Linked DNA regions of Homo sapiens. The protein of the gene in region 1 interacts with the protein of each later gene in a pairwise test. Each region holds a gene or a part of one and is shown in the gene's direction. Other genes may lie near its edges.

Evidence for each region.
Region 2: the proteins of CACFD1 (region 1) and LDAF1 interact in binary tests that used the Homo sapiens proteins (3 or more experiments, as listed by UniProt).

What each region holds. Positions count from the first base shown.
Region 1 is NC_000009.12:133,462,713-133,470,599, forward strand, and holds part of CACFD1 (calcium channel flower homolog), read left to right. Parts: intron 1-770; coding exon 771-843; intron 844-2,609; coding exon 2,610-2,735; intron 2,736-3,524; exon of another isoform or gene 3,525-5,208; coding exon 5,209-5,316; exon of another isoform or gene 5,317-5,530; intron 5,531-5,627; coding exon of another isoform or gene 5,628-5,752; intron 5,753-5,759; exon of another isoform or gene 5,760-5,850; coding exon 5,851-5,941; coding exon of another isoform or gene 5,942-5,999; 3' UTR 6,000-7,887. UniProt on the Homo sapiens protein: Transmembrane protein which mediates synaptic endocytosis and fitness-based cell culling.
Region 2 is NC_000016.10:21,160,945-21,168,831, forward strand, and holds part of LDAF1 (lipid droplet assembly factor 1), read left to right. Parts: intron 1-33; exon of another isoform or gene 34-140; 5' UTR 141-238; coding exon 239-334; intron 335-5,895; coding exon of another isoform or gene 5,896-5,967; intron 5,968-7,887. UniProt on the Homo sapiens protein: Plays an important role in the formation of lipid droplets (LD) which are storage organelles at the center of lipid and energy homeostasis. In association with BSCL2/seipin, defines the sites of LD formation in the endoplasmic reticulum.

The sequences.
Region 1 (7,887 bases):
CCCTGCTGGTGAGGTGCAGCTGGGAGGCGGGGCGTCAAGGCTGCACATCTGAGCATCAGAGAAGCCACGTTCTGGGGTGGAAAACGATGCCCCCTCCCCTTCCTGGCCTTATGGCATTTCAGCGGTGGGTGGCTGGGCTGTGGGACTTGCTCATGTGCAAGAGGAGAAACGGGTCTAGGAAGATGAAGATAGCGTGCCAGTGGCACAGGGCTGGTGAGGAAGTTAGAGCTGGAACTGCTGCTCAGTCTTACCTGGTTCCCATCTCTGTTCTGAGAGAGGCACCCCTTGTCCCAACCAAAATCCAAGCCACATTTTCTGAGTCAGAGGACTTCTTGTGTGGCCGGCCCTGTGAATGGTGGCAAGTGACCCTTACCGAAGGCTGAGTCTTGGGGGAGCACTGGCCTGAATCCTTGAGGGACATTCACTCTTTAATCCTTCTTTAATCCTAACCTCCCTTTGAGGTGGATATTGATGTAGCTGGGGTCAGAGGGCCAGCTCCTCTGAGCCCTGAAACGGGGAGAGGATGCTGTGAGATCCACCTGCCACCTTGCTGCCACCTTGCTGTGGGGCCTGGGGCAAGCAAGGCACTGCACCTCTCTGCGTCTCCTCACCTGTCTCAGACGATAGAGGGCAGGCTTCTGGGTGCTGTGAGAACTGTGTGCTGAGCATCCGCAGAGACTCTCGTCCTTTCCAGTCATCTCCCAAGGCCGCCTTCCCAGCGGGCTCCGCCTGCCTCCCTGCTGACTCCTGCCCGTGTCTCTTGTTTCAAGCTTGCGCGATCTCTGGCCTCTTCAACTGCATCACCATCCACCCTCTGAACATTGCGGCCGGCGTGTGGATGATGTGAGTAATGCATGGCCGTCCCACCCCGGGGGTCTTGCTGGTCGGGAATCTGCTGGGCACCTCCCGGGACAGAGGAGTGGCAGGGGCCGTGGGAGTGGGCATCCTTGTGGTTGCCATGGCTACTGGCTCCAGCCTGGGTGCCTCGGGCATGTGAGTTTCTGGCCACAGCATGCGGCTTCTTCCCCTTCATACCCCCACCATGTTTAGTTTCCTAATGAGAGGTCAAGGCCCAGGGAATGCCCACCCCGGCCTTCATCCGGTGCAGGGGCAAGGCCATCAGTGCTCCAGACATTTCTGGAGCATCCACTGAGACTGCAGATGCCAAGTCCACTATACTGGGGCCCTCGCCCTCTGGGAGCTCCCAGGACTGGGGTGGGGAAGGCTGTTCATTGGGGCTGGCTGAGGACTGGGTTGAATGGTCTGCTGGGAGAGGGCACTCGAGCTCGGAGCTGTGCCAAAGATAGATGGGAGAGGCGGGTCGGAGTTGTCACGGGAACCCGTGGTCAGAACACCCTCATGTGCGTTCCATGCCCACCTCCTGCCAGGGTTTCGCCATCCCATCGGAAGGGAAGGCGGGGTGAGGGCAGGCCCGTGTGGCTTGGGGCACGTGAGAAGTGGCGGTGCACCAGGAATTGATGAGTGTCCTCATGGGGCTTGGTGCCTTGAGGGGTACAGAGCTAGACGAGATTCAGGTCCCGTCCCCAGTGACCTATGGCCAGTGGAGAGCCTCGGGGGCCTGCTGTGGTGGGGTCCTCAGTGCTTGTGCTGGCCAGTGGTGGATAGGGAAGGGGGATGGACAGAGAGGCGCCCAGCCCAGCTTCAGGGGGTGGAGTCGGAGCCTGGCCGAGTTTGAAGTGGAAGGGCTGGCCCAGCACAGAGTGAGCCCGTGCTTGGAGGCCTGGTGTGTGGGAGGCTCGGGGCGGGTGCAGTGGTTAAGAGTTGTGAAGAGAGTGCCTGCCCCGGGCTTGGGGTGGCTCTTAGGTGTCCTGAGCCTGCATTTCTGTTACACAGGCATAATGATGGCACTTTTCTCCCAGGCCTGGGGACAGAAGGGCCTGGCTCAGTGTCTGCTAACTGATTGTTATCCATGCATAGAGAATACCAAGACCACAGCAGACACCTTCCGTCACCAGTGGCTTAGCTGTTCCCACCCCAAACATAGGGCTGGATGCAAGGACTTGCTAAAGTTCTTCCTCCCCAGCGTGGGCTTCCCCTGGGTGTCCCCGGGCCTGGGGCCGGTGGCATCAGGTGTGTGGGCAGCTCTCCGTGACTGTTTTGGGACTGCGTGGCTCCAGCTCTCTGCCTCCCTGGTGGGGCAGCCTTCCTGGTGCTGGTGCCACTGACGGCTTTTGGTGGCCATGGCGATAATACTAACAGCAGACAGAGGACACAGCTGCCAGTGCTCCATCTGTGGATGAACCTGCCGCAGCGTTGTAGCAGTGCCATGATGTGGGGTCCCCTTTCCTCCATGTCACACAGGAGGAGGATAAAGGGAAGCAGAAGCCCAGGGGCTTCCCTCTAGGAGTGTTCAGTTCAGCTGGGGAGATGGGTGTGCAGGAGCAGCTGGGGAGTGCTGGAGTCTTCAGCAGAGGCTCTCCGAGGGGTACGAGCAGGTGCCCTGGAGCAGCCGGGCGGCTTCCCAGAGGAGGAGGGATGAGGGCAGGAGGGTGAGGGAGGTGGCATTCCTTATGGCACTGGCACTGGGGGCCGCCCTCATCCTCCTGGGATTGTCAGTCGCTGCTCTTCTCCTGCCCTGGTCCCTGCAGCATGAATGCCTTCATCTTGTTGCTGTGTGAGGCGCCCTTCTGCTGCCAGTTCATCGAGTTTGCAAACACAGTGGCGGAGAAGGTGGACCGGCTGCGCTCCTGGCAGAAGGCTGTCTTCTACTGCGGGTGAGGGGTTGCTGGGCAGGGTCCCGTGACACAGTTCCCCAAAACCCCACTGACAAAATAGGACCCAAAAGTCAGGTGAGGGTGGGCAGTGTATTCAGTTCCTCTCTGTGGAAGTGTAAACTGGGATTGCCTTTGTGCACAGTGATTTGCTCATAGCTGCCAAAACGTGCCCCAGTGGTTCTGCGCCCAGGAACTCAGCTGTCGCTGTGCCGTAGTCACTGGAAGGTTCAGAGGTATATGAGCATGTGTGGCAGCATCCGTGCAGTGGAGAGAAAGTGGGAAGCGTCTGGAATTTTGGTCCGTCCACTGGGAGTTGTTAACCAGATGATAGTAGGTCTGTAGGACATGTTTCTCTGCAGCCTTTCCGAAGAGTGGGTTCATCTAGATGTCCTGACGTGAAGGGGGAGAAGCAGGTTGCAGAGCAGAAAATGTGGTTGCCCTCTAAATACACTTGTTAAAAATTTTCCCATTTCTAACAATGAAATCAATATGTAATACTTCTCCTCTCAGTCATAAGAAGGAACTAATTTCAGGATAAGCTTAATACACGGAAACTCCTAGAATAATGCCTCTAGTGCATAGGAGGCTGGTGGCAGCTGTATTCATTATTGTCTAGGTTATCTTTAGAAAGAAGTCTAGATGCAAGCTTGCTTCCCCTTCAGAGAGGCCCGGTAGTTTTGATGGTAAGAGCACAAGCCACATGCTTAGTTCTGGAGCCATCTTGTGCCATATCTAAATCACGAAGAACACAGGATCACAAAGCTCTTATCTACACGCAGTGTCATGTCCTTAGGGGTTCAAAAAACTGTATTTTAAAAATGCTAGACATCATAGAAATTCATTCACAATAATTTGGAATATAGAACAATGTTACTCGAAGCCCGCTGCCTGCTAATCTTCTGATGTGTGTGCTTCCTGTCTGCAGGCATTTTTTAAAAGCCTGCTTTTAACACAGTTATAACCATTATGAATAAGTTTGTATCCTGCCTTTTTTCACTTAGAGTAATGATATAAGCATTTGAACATCACCACAGACTTTATAACATTCTTTCAATACAGGAATATTCATTCAGCTGGATGTATCATGCTGTTCTTAATTTCTTAACTGGTGTAAATCGAGGTGTGATAAACATGTGTCTGCTAAAACTTTTTCTGTGTTTATGATGATTTCCTTAATATCTATTTTCAGGTGTGGAATTACTGGGTCAAAGATTCTGATCATTAAAAATATTTTAAGATGCGTGGCTACGTTGCTTTCCAAAGAGGTCCCTTGAGTCTCTCCCCCGCCCCCACCCCAGCCCAGGGCTGCACACCACTTCACATTCGCATTTATCTATTTGTTATCTAAGAGGGAAAAATATTTTCCCACGTGTTTCCATTGCATTTTCTGATATGAAAATTTTCGAGTTTACTTTTTAACCTGTGGGAACCTCAGTGTTCTGCTTAGCAAGTTCAGTGTGTTTTCTGTATTAAAGATTTCATGATCCTTGGTTGTATTTCCTGCAACTATTTTTCCAGGCTCTTGTTTGCCTTTAATTTTGTTTTTGTCAGAAGGTTCCCCGCCGTGGTCTTTTTCTTTGTAATTTCTATTATTATTTTATCATTTTGAAATTTTTTAACGACAGAAAAATCTCACAACCACATGTCTACAAGAATGGAAACTGAGGTAGAATGCAATTGGCCACGAGTCTTGTCCTCCTGCACAGGCAGCCTCCTCTAGGGAGGCGACAGGACAGAGCGCTGGCCTCCAGGCTGCAGGTATCCTCCTGGCCCAGTTAGCCCAGGAATTGCTGCTGGCCTGGAAATTCCAGCCAGGATGGAGAATCAGCCCCGGGGACGCTTAAGCCCCAGTGGACCCTGCCACCAGGTGACGCCAAACTGCAGCAAGGTCTGGGCCGACCCCGCAGACCCCGCAGCCTGCAGCCCTCCCATGATGAGACCCTGTGTTCCATGTGGTTGAATTCCAGGGACCTTACTTGTGGCGATGTGGCTGGTGTTACTCTATAACTCAGAGCATTTATTTAGTGCCTGTGGTGGTCAGCATTGTGTAGGTAACATGACTGACCTCGGACAAGCTTTGATCCCCTCTCCGCGGTGGAGATTCCGAGTAACTTGCCCGCGAAGCTAGTAGGTCCTGGATGGGAAGCCAGATTCTCTGTCACAGGCTCTTTCTGGCCAGTTTTTCTCACAGTGAGGGCACTGGACCATCTCGTTACTGTTTAGCTCTTTTTGGGATCACAGACCCCTTCAAAAATCTGATGAAAGCTTTGGATCCTATTCCCAGAATGGAACAGTTTTACAGACAAGTTCAGGGCTGATGAAGGACTTTCTGAAGCTGTGTCTCAGTTGATTTTTGGGGATCCTTCCTGTGCCCTGGGTGTCTAGGAAGGATGCTGGGCCGAGTCTGGGAAGCGGGGAAGGATGTGGTGGCTGTGGGGCCGGAGTGCCCCCTTGACCTCTGCTTTCCCCCCAGGATGGCGGTCGTTCCCATCGTCATCAGCCTGACCCTGACCACGCTGCTGGGCAACGCCATCGCCTTTGCTACGGGGGTGCTGTACGGACTCTCTGCTCTGGGCAAAAAGTGCGTCTGCCAGGCCCAGCCCCTGGGCAGGGCCTTCCTCCCTCCGCCCCCCGAAGTCCTTCAGTGAGGAGGATCTGAGAGTGGCCCCTTTTAGCTAGTGGAGACCGAGGCAGAGGTCCCAGTAACTCATTGGTGCCTCCAGGGCTCAGCTCGAGTGGGTGAAGACAGAGGACTTACAACACTTCTGCGTGGCCCAGTCTTGCCCCGTCACGGCCTGCAGCAAGGATAGCAAAAACATGGCTGGTGGGAGCCCCTTCCCCTCCCAGGTCTGCACCGGGCATTGTACTCAGTTGCCACCCTCTCTCCTGCAGAGCCCAGACTGAGGCTGGTTCCTTCGCAGCCCAGCATCCCAGGGAGCCTGGGCCATTCTCAGAGGGGACAAGACAGGCCTTTGCCACCCCAGCAGTTGTCTCTGGGGAAATCAGAATGCCTGCAGGTCACACCTGGGTCACAGGGCAGGAACCGGGCAGTGGTCAGGAGGGCTGTGGGCATGGGGCTGGTGCTCCACGTGACGCTGCCTCTCTCTCTCCCCAGGGGCGATGCGATCTCCTATGCCAGGATCCAGCAGCAGAGGCAGCAGGCGGATGAGGAGAAGCTCGCGGAGACCCTGGAGGGGGAGCTGTGAAGGGCTGGGCGCCCCTCCCTCCCTGTCCCCTCTTCTGGCTCTGTGTGGGTCCAAGTGAGGCCTGGACTGTCCACGCTGAGGCACAGCCTGGAGAGGGGCCTTTGCACGTGTCCCTACACCTGGAGTCCTCTGCTCCTTTCTCCAGACTGGCTTAAGCCAGGAGCCACTGGCTGCTGGTGTGAGGGTCTGGGCTGCTGGACTTGAGGCAGAGCCTGCAGCAGCTGTGTGGACACTACCCAGCCCTACTCCTCTGCTGGGTGGGTCTGCAGATCTCACACCACAGACAGGGCTGCCTGTGACCTGCTGTGACCTGGGAGCAGCTTCCCCTGGAGATGCTGGTCCTGGCTTGAGGGGAGGGGCAAGTGGGACCCTGCCACCTGGGCACTGAGCAGAGGGACCTCCCCCAGCTCTCTTAGCAGGTGGAGCCCCAGGGCCTGGGACAGCCTGCCGCTGCCAGCAACCTCCCACTGCTGCCTAGGGTGCAGCGCCCACTGTCACCCTGCCTTCTGAAGAAGCCCACAGGGCTCCTAAGGTGCACCCCGGTACCTGGAACTGCAGCCTTGGCAGTGACTGGACAGCTGGGTGGGGGATGCTCCCTGCTGGCCCTGGGAACCTTGGACAGGCCACCTCAAGGCCCCTCGGCTGCCCCTCCTCCCTGGGCCTGCTGGGGCCCCTAGGTTCTGCCCATCACCCCCCGCCCCTGCTGGCCTTGGTGCTAAGGAAGTGGGGAGAGCAGGCTCTCCCTGGCACCGAGGGTGCCCACCCTCTCCCTGGTGTGGCCCCGTCAACATCAGCCACAGCCCAGCCCCATTAGTGGGTTAGTGGGTCTGACCTCAGCCCCACTCAGGTGCTCCTGCTGGCCTGCCCAAGCCCTGCCCTCAGGGAGCTTCTGCCTTTTAAGAACTGGGCAGAGGCCACAGTCACCTCCCCACACAGAGCTGTCCCCACTGCCCTGGGTGCCAGGCTGTCCGGAGCCAGGCCTACCCAGGGAGGATGCAGAGAGCTGGTGCCCAGGATGTGCACCCCCATATTCCCTCTGCCCTGTGGCCTCAGCCCGCTGGCCTCTCTGACCGTGAGGCTGGCTCTCAGCCATCGGGCAGGTGCCTGGTCGGGCCTGGCTTAGCCCAGGTGGGGTTTGGCAGAAGCGGGCGGGTGTGGAAGATATTCCATCTGGGGCCAACCCCAGGCTGGGCCTGCGCTGAGCTTCTGGAGCGCAGGTACTGGGTCTTGCTAAGTGAACTGTTTCCCAGGAACACCTCTCGGGCCCATCTGCGTCTGAGGCTGGGAGTGGCATCTGAGGCCGGGAGTGGCATCTGAGGCCAGGAGTGGCAGGCTGGTGGGCTGGGCGTGGGGTTTTCTGGGCCCTGCCCAGTACTGCCCTGGGGACTTGGTGGGCTCCTGGGTCAGCAGCATCCCACCCCTGGGAGTCTGGCCAGCTGAGCCCCAGGGTGGCAGGGGCATTATAGCCTGGTGGACATGTGCCTTCAGGGTTCCTCCGGGGCCACCTTCCTCAGGCCAGTGCTGGGTTCAAAGGGCTGTGTGTGTGTGTGTGTGTGTGTGTGTGTGTGTGTGTATGTATATGTGTGTGGGTGCACACATCTGTCCCATGTATGCAGTGAGACCTGTCTACCTCCCACAAGGAGCAAGGGCTCTGCCCGCCCTCTGCTCATTCCTACCCAGGTAGTGGGACCCCGGGCCCCCTTCTGCCTGGCTTGCCTGCTTCTGCCCTTTCCAGAGGGGTCTCACTGACAGCCAGAGACAGCAGGAGAAGGGTTGGCTGTGGATCAAGGAAGGCTGCCCCTGTACCCTGTGGGGAAATGGTGGGTGCATGGCTGGATGCAGAGGTGGAAGGCCCTGGGCCACAGGCGAGAGTGGGCGTGTCACCTGTCCCAGGTTCCCAGCAAGTCTGCAGCTGTGCAGTCCTGGGGTCCCTGACCCTGTCGCCC
Region 2 (7,887 bases), on another chromosome or scaffold:
TGTGCAATCTGAAATTGTTGTGAATATTGCCAGGTTACCCTCCGTCTGCATGCCCACCATCAAGGTATGAGGATGGTAGAAGCTCTCGTCGAACCAGATGGATGAAGACCACTAACGGCTTTTGTTTCCTCTGGTAACAGCAAGAGACAGAGCGACATGAGAGATTGGACCGCGGGCTGCACTGGAGAATTTACTGGTAGGATAATTCATCCCTAAAGAGATTGAAGTGAGCTTCAGAATGGCAAAAGAGGAGCCCCAGAGTATCTCAAGGGACTTGCAGGAACTGCAGAAGAAGCTGTCTCTGCTGATAGACTCCTTCCAGAATAACTCAAAGGTCAGTTTCCAATCACTATGTATAATGGAAAATCCCAATATAACACTAGCATAAACAAGATAGAAAGTTATTTCTTTCTCCAGTAGAAGGAATTTGGAGGTAAGTCAAGAATCTTTCTGGCTTACCGCCCTGCCATGTCTATGCTGTGACCTTCAAACTCCTTGTCTGAGATGACTGCAAGAGCATCAGCCATTGTATCCATCTTTCAGGCAACAGGATTTGAGGAGGGGGGAAGAGAGAAGTGCAAGCCACCTACAATTTAAGGAGACTTCTGGGAGTCGCACACAATACTTCCAATTACATCCCTTAAGCCAACATTGAGTCATTTGCCACTAATGGCAAATGCAATTCTTTAGCTGGATAAAGAAGTCTGTGCAACAGATATCATCCTTTTTTTGGTTTTGTTTGGTTTTGTTGTGAATTTTGCCCTATCTGTTACCCTGAAAATGAGAGACAAAAGCCTACTTCAAGATTTGAGTTCATTGTTCCACTAGGAATCCAGGTCCGATAGAAATATGATGTGAGTCACGTATGTAATTTAGAATTTTTCTAGTAGCCACATGTAAGAAGTAAAAAGAAATAGGTAAAATTAATTTTGGCTGGGCATAGTGGCTCCCGCCTGTGATCCTAGCACTTTGGGAGGCTGAGGTGGGTGGATCACTTGAGATCAGAAGTTCGAGATCAGCCTGGCGAACATGGTAAAACCCCATCTCTACTAAAATTACCAAAATGAGCAGGTGTGGTGGTAAGGCCTGTAGTCCCAGCTACTCGGGAGGCTGAGGCAGGAGAATCACTTGAACCCAGGAGGCGGAGGTTGCAGTGAGCTGAGATTGTGCCACCGCACTCCAGCCTGGGCGACAGAGCGAGATTCCGTCTCCAAAAAAAAAAAATTATTTTTAATAATGTTTTTATTCAACCTAAGATATCAAAAATATTTCAACATGTAATCATTTATACAAAATTATTAATGAAAAAAGATTCTTGAAACATTGTACCTTCTTTTTTGAACTCCCTCTTCAAAACCCCCCGTGCGCATATTTTACACTTCTAGCACATTTCAATTCGAGTTAGCCACTTTTTAGGTATTCAGTGGCCACTCAGTGGCAATGAGACTTCAGATAGCGTTATGTTTTCTTGCATATTTATCCTTATTGCTTTCTTCTATATGTCTTTCAGCATTTTGTCAGGGAAAAGAAAACAGCTTTCAGAGATAATACTGTTAACATTTTGTATGTCATTCTAGACCTTTTTTCTATGCAATATACCTATAAAAATACATATGTATATGTAACAAAATGAACTATTTTGTGGTGTATTTTTTTTTGTATTGGATAGCACAGCGGGTCTACTCGAAGAGATGCTTGTTTGCAATCTACAACAATAAATTCTGGACTTGCTCCAGAATTTATTTGGCACTCTTTGTGGATTTACCAAGCTATTTTTAAATTGGACAAGCAGCTTTCTCGCCAGCTGGCGGGGACTCTTGTTATTAAAAGTTAGCTCAGTAAGAAGGGTCCTCCTGCCTGTTCCACATTTACAGCTGATTCTCATTAACCATGGTAGTTACGTTCTATAAAGTTACTGCAGACACTGAATTAGCACATACCAAACCATCGCTCCTAGGGGAAATACAGGATTCAGTTGCTGTGAGCCTCCTGTTCACAACATTTTTGTCAGCTGATCAGTACATAACCTCGTTTTATGTGTATTTCTGTTTAAAGACATGTTAATATATATTGTTGATCATTAACGTTGAACTCAGGGCCAACAACAGTACTATGACTCATGTCTTAAACAAAGCTAATCACACACATGTATTTTCTGCATAAGGCACATCACAGCCTTCTCATGGTTAGGAACGCTAGAGAACACTTCAGCACTACACTTGGGGACCATTTTCAACAGTAAAATCACCAAACTAAAGCATAAACGTGGCACTAAATAGACCACAGTGACACTTGTTTAAAGGATGAAACAGGAAGGCTCGGTGTCACCTTGCTTGACCTCAGCTGGGAATGTACGTGGCAGGTGACTCCACTTTTTGCTGTTGTGGACGTGTCCACTAATGACCTCAAAAGCACTGCAGGCCAGGCGTGGTAGCTCACACCTGTAATCCTAGTACTTTGGGAGGCCGAGGCGGGTGGATCCCTTGAGCCAGAAGTTCAAGACCAGCCTGGCCAACATGATGAAACCCCTTCTCTACGAAAAATACAAAAATTAGCTGGGTGTGGTGGTGTGCGCCTGTAATCCTAGCCTCTTGGGAGGCTGAGGCACGAGAATCGCTTGAACCCAGGAGGTGAAGGTTGAAGGGAGCCAAGATCACACCACTGTACTCCAGCCTGGGTGACAGAGCAAGACTCTATCTCAGACAAAACAAAACAAAACAAAAAGCACTGCCAGTATTCATTTTGAGGTTACAAATAAATTTCAGTGAGGAGGCAAATTTACAAATATGGAATCATGAGTAATAAGGATTGACTGCATATTTCTTGGCACTGACTGTATGCCAAGCACTGCACTAGGCATTCACCCTGGCCCTGTCTGAACTTAGTTAATAGTCACGTTCACCTGCCTTTTTTGTTTGTTTGTTTTTGTATTTTTAGTAGAGACGGGGTTTCTCACCATTTTGGCCACGCTGATCTCCAACTCCTGACCTCAGGCAATCCACCCACTTCGGCCTCCCAAAGTGCTGGGATTATAGGCGTGAGCCACCGCACCTGGCCACCAGTGGTTGTAAATGGTCCTGACCCTTCGTCTTTCTCCTGTTAGGAAGAGATAATGAATCATTGATTGTTTTTTGCATTCTGATACCAGGGAATTTGCCTGGCTCCTGAATCATCCAAGTTTCAGTCTTCATGTTCTCAAATACTGGCCACTTTGTCCCTAGTTTAGAAGCCAACCGCCTTTGTCTGACCTTGGGCAAGTCACTTAGGCTCACTGAATTTCCATCTCCTTTTTTAAAATTTTTTATTTATTTTTTATTGAGACAGAGTCTCACTCTGTCTTCCAGGCTGGAGTATAGTGGTGTGATCATGGCTTACTGTAGCCTCGAACTTCTGGTCTCAAGCAACACCTCCAGCCTCAGCCTCCTGAGTAGCTGGGACTACAGGTGCACACCAGCATACTCAGCTAATGTTTTATTTTATTTTTTGGAGAGACAGCATCTTTCACTGTGTTGCCCAGGCTGGTCTCAAACTCTTGGCCTCAAGCAGTCCTCCTGCCTTGGCCTCCTGAAGTGCTGGGATTACAGAAGTGAGCCACCATGCCCAGCTGCCATCTCCTCTTTTCTAAAATGAGCAATGTCAGGCTCAGAGGTTTGTTATGAAGATTATCTGAGATGCTGTTTGAAGCTTTAGCACAGAGGGTGGCGCATAATGTTGTCAGTCTGTCTCAGCCTGGCCTTCCTGGGCTCTGCAGTGCTGCACTGTGCTTACAGAGCCTAGATTGGGTAACCTGTGTCTACCTCCAGGCTGGTGATGGAAAATCACAGTGCATGTTACTGAATAATAACCTCTCCCACTTTCCATCTTTCCATTGCATCCCCCTCTGTTGCCATGAGAATGAAATGTTAATTGCTACGTTCTACCCCCCTGAGTTTAAATAGTGTTAGGTCGTTCTTTTTTACCTACCTCGTAGCATTGTAGGAAGAAATAAATGAGGAAATAATACGAGAGGTGCTTAAAGCAGTGCCCAGCACCTGAGTGTTTAATGAATGTTCTCTGTTATTATTAGGTGTGGTTGAATCGTGTCCTCCCCTCCTGGGACAGACTGGCTGGAGCTCAGCTGTACTTCCTGGGAGAAGACAATTTCTGGGTTTAATCATCTGAATCTTGGTCTCTTTGCATATCTAAATGACTTTCTCTTTGATTATAGAGCCCAGACTCGGAAAAGACTAAGAATGGCGGGGCATGGTGGCTGATGCTTATAATCCTAGCACTTCGGGAGGCCGAGGCGGGCAGATCACTTGAGGTCAGGAGTTCGAGACTAGCCTGGCCAACATGGTGAAACCCCATCTCTACTAAAAAATATAAATATTAGCTGGAAATCGCCTGAACCTGGGAAGCGGAAGTTGCAGTGAGCCGAGATCATGCCATTGCACTCTAGCCTGGGCAATAGAGTGAGATTCCATCTCAAAAAAACAAAAGGCTAAGAAAAAGGTGGATTCCTTAAGGACTGAAGTGGAACAGTCTTGCCTGTTTCCTTTTATATCCCTGTGCCATACAGTCCCTAAGTCCTGTGTATTCCTTCTTTTGTCATTCCACTTTCATACCCATCTACCCCTCCCCCTTCTCTTCCCTCTCTGCCATCAGCCTGGACTTGACCACAGTATATCTTGCCTGATTTCCTGCAAATCTTTCTACCTGCCTCTTGCACATGATTGCTAGGTTCATATTTCTTAAATCATTCCTTTAATCATGTCATAGTTCTGCTCAAATGACAGCAGTTTGTTCCCTGTTTTTTTTTTCCCAGATGAAATTTAAATGAGTGCTGTCTAGCAGAAATATTATGTGAGCCACATATATAATTTTAAGTTTTTTAATAATTACATTAAAAACAAAAAGAAACAAATGAGATTAATTTTATTTATTTATTTATCTTGAGATGGAGTCTCGCTCTGTCGCCCAGGCTGGAGTACAGTGGCGTGATCTCGGCTCACTGCAACCTCTGACTCCCGGGTTCAAGTGATTCTCCCGCCTCAGCCTCCCAAGTAGCTAGGATTACAGGCACGCACCACTCTGCCTGACTAATTTTTTTGTATTTTTACTAGAGACGGGGTTTCACCATGTTGACCAGGCTGGTCTTAAGCTCCAGATCTTAAGTAATCTGCCCACCTCAGCCTCCCAAAGTGCTGGGATTACAGGTGTGAGCCACCGTGCCCAGCCAGAGATTAATTTTAATAATATATTCTCAATTTAACACAATATATCCAAAACACTATAATTTCAACAGGTAATATAAAAAAGTATTAATGAGATATTTTGCATTTTTTTTTCTTACACTTAAAGCACATCTCAATTCTGATGCCAAATTTTCATTGGAAATATTTAATCTCTATTCAGATTTTATAAAACTTACAATTCAGCGAAATAGATTCACATACCCAACCTATTGGAAACATACTTAAAATTTTTCCAACAACTGAATCAAGTCTCAGCTTTAAAATTTAAATTAAATTAAATTGGAAATCCAGGCCATCAGTCACAGGAGGAGCATTTCAAGTGCTGAATGGCGCAGGTGGCCTGTGATGGACAGCCCGGGGATAAGCTAGCAAGCCCAGTGTCCTGGTGTCCCAGCCTCACAAGTTCCTTCCGCTGCACAGCCCTTCCCTCGCTGGCGCAGCATACTCACGGGTGTACTGCTGCCTCCCTTTCCTGGAGAGCCCATCTGCTCTCCCCACTGTGGTTCTTTGGATTGTAAAGATCAGGTGACACAGGGAGCATCAAATAAGGATGCATGTGGATTCGAACTGGAAAGAAGTCAGGACCTGAGACAGCGCAAGGGACCAGCCCACATTCTGTGTGGTGACTCCCACGGCTCCTCCGCCTCTCTTTCTCTTTCAGCTGCCCCAACACAGCAGGATCTCACTGGACTCTGATGATGGAGTGTCCAGGCTGGGCAGTGCTGGCTCCAAGGTGATTCCTGCTACAGTCATCTCTGGCTAGAGAAGCGGAATAGCAAGCTCTTTGGTGGCTTTTGTCAGAATGGTGGGGTAGCAGGAGGCAGTGAGGTCAGCGGGCATTATGCCGTCCTGTGGCCTGGCAGGGAGTGAAATTGGCCATGCCTCGAGAGTAATCCTTAGGAGACCACGCTGAAGCCCAAGACCAATGGCTGTGGCTTCTTGGCATGGCCTCTTTTATTTAAGCAGGGTGCAGCTTGCACTTTAGTTCCTTCAGCATGAACCACAAACCCCTCCTGCCTTCCAACTCGCCCTGAAAATCCCACTGTTTAAACCACTTGGGTAAACTCTTCTTCCTAGGAGGCACATGTGTTTTGGGGACCTGAATTATGTCTTCTTTTCATCTGTTGGCCTGCAAGGCCGTAGGGATGAGGCTCAGGAAGGACCAGTTATGATGGAAGGAGGTTCTGGAATAATGGTTCCTTTCAAGTGAACAGGATCTAGAATACCAGTACTGAGGAGAGAGAAGGCGTGGAGCCTAAGGAGGAGAGGGGGAAACCCATCTTTGCGGATTTGCCTATGGCCAGCTCTGCGTTAAAGCAGTCTCCCTCCATTGAGTCAGATCGAAAATTCCTTTTTGCCCGGTGAAGGAAAATAAACTATTAACACAACATAAACTTGCATTAGTCACAGGCTGTGGCCAACTATGGTAACCAGGTTGATGACATAAAAGCATTTTTACTTGATGTGGTGGCAGCTGTTGCAAGCATTGGACATTCTGAGTCCAAGACCTTAGGTTTGTTTTTTTTTTTTTGAAAAGGAGACTTGCGGTGGGGCGCGGTATCCCACGCCTGTAATCTCAGCACTTTGGGAGGCCAAGGCGGGTGGATCGCCTGAGGTCAGGAATTCGAGACCAGCCTGGACAATATAGTGAAACCCTGTCTCTACTAAAAATACAAAACTTAGCTGGGCGTGGTGGGGGCGCCCGTAATCCCAGCTACTCGGGAGGCTGAGGCGGGAGAATGGCTTGAACCCGGGAGGCGGAGGTTGCAGTGAGCCGAGATCTTGCCATTGCACTCCAGCCTGGGCGACAAGAGCAAAACTCCATCTCAAAAAAAAAAAAAGAAAGAAAGAAAAGAAAAGGAGACTTGCTCTGTCATCCAGGCTGGAGTGCAATGGCGCCATCTTGGCTCACTGCAACCTCCGCCTTCCAGGCTCAAACGATTCTCGTGCCTCAGCCTCCCTAGTAGCTGGGACTACCAGCACGCGCCACCATGCCTGGCTGATTTTTGTATGTTTAAAAGAGACAGGGTTTCACCATGTTAGCCAGGCTGTTCTTGAACTCCTGACCTCAGGTGACCCGCCTGCCTCCACCTCCCAAAGTGCTGGGATTACAGGTATGAGCCACCATGCTGGCCAGGCCTTAGCTTTTAATGCTGAGATTTTGCCACTTGGAGGCTGTGCGACTCTAGACAAGTGATTAGCTTTTAATGCTGAGCTTAGCTTTTAATAGACAAGTGAATAGACAAGTGATTAGCTTTTAATGCTTACTAATAGACAAGTGATTAGCTTTTAATGCTTAATAATGCTTTTAATAATAATGCTTTTAATAATTATAATTATAATAAATAATATATAAATAATATAATACATATTATAATTATATACATATATAAATATAATATATTTATATAATATATAATAATGCTATATGAATATTGATAACTAATATTAGTATAATATATCTAATATAATTATACAATATTATAATTATGATTTTTATATTACATTACAATTATATTTTTATATATAATTATATATATATTTTTAATATTATATTATATTTTTATTTTATATATTATAATTATAAATATTTTTATATTTATATTTTTATAAATATAATTATATTTTTATATAAAATTAAATATAATTTAAT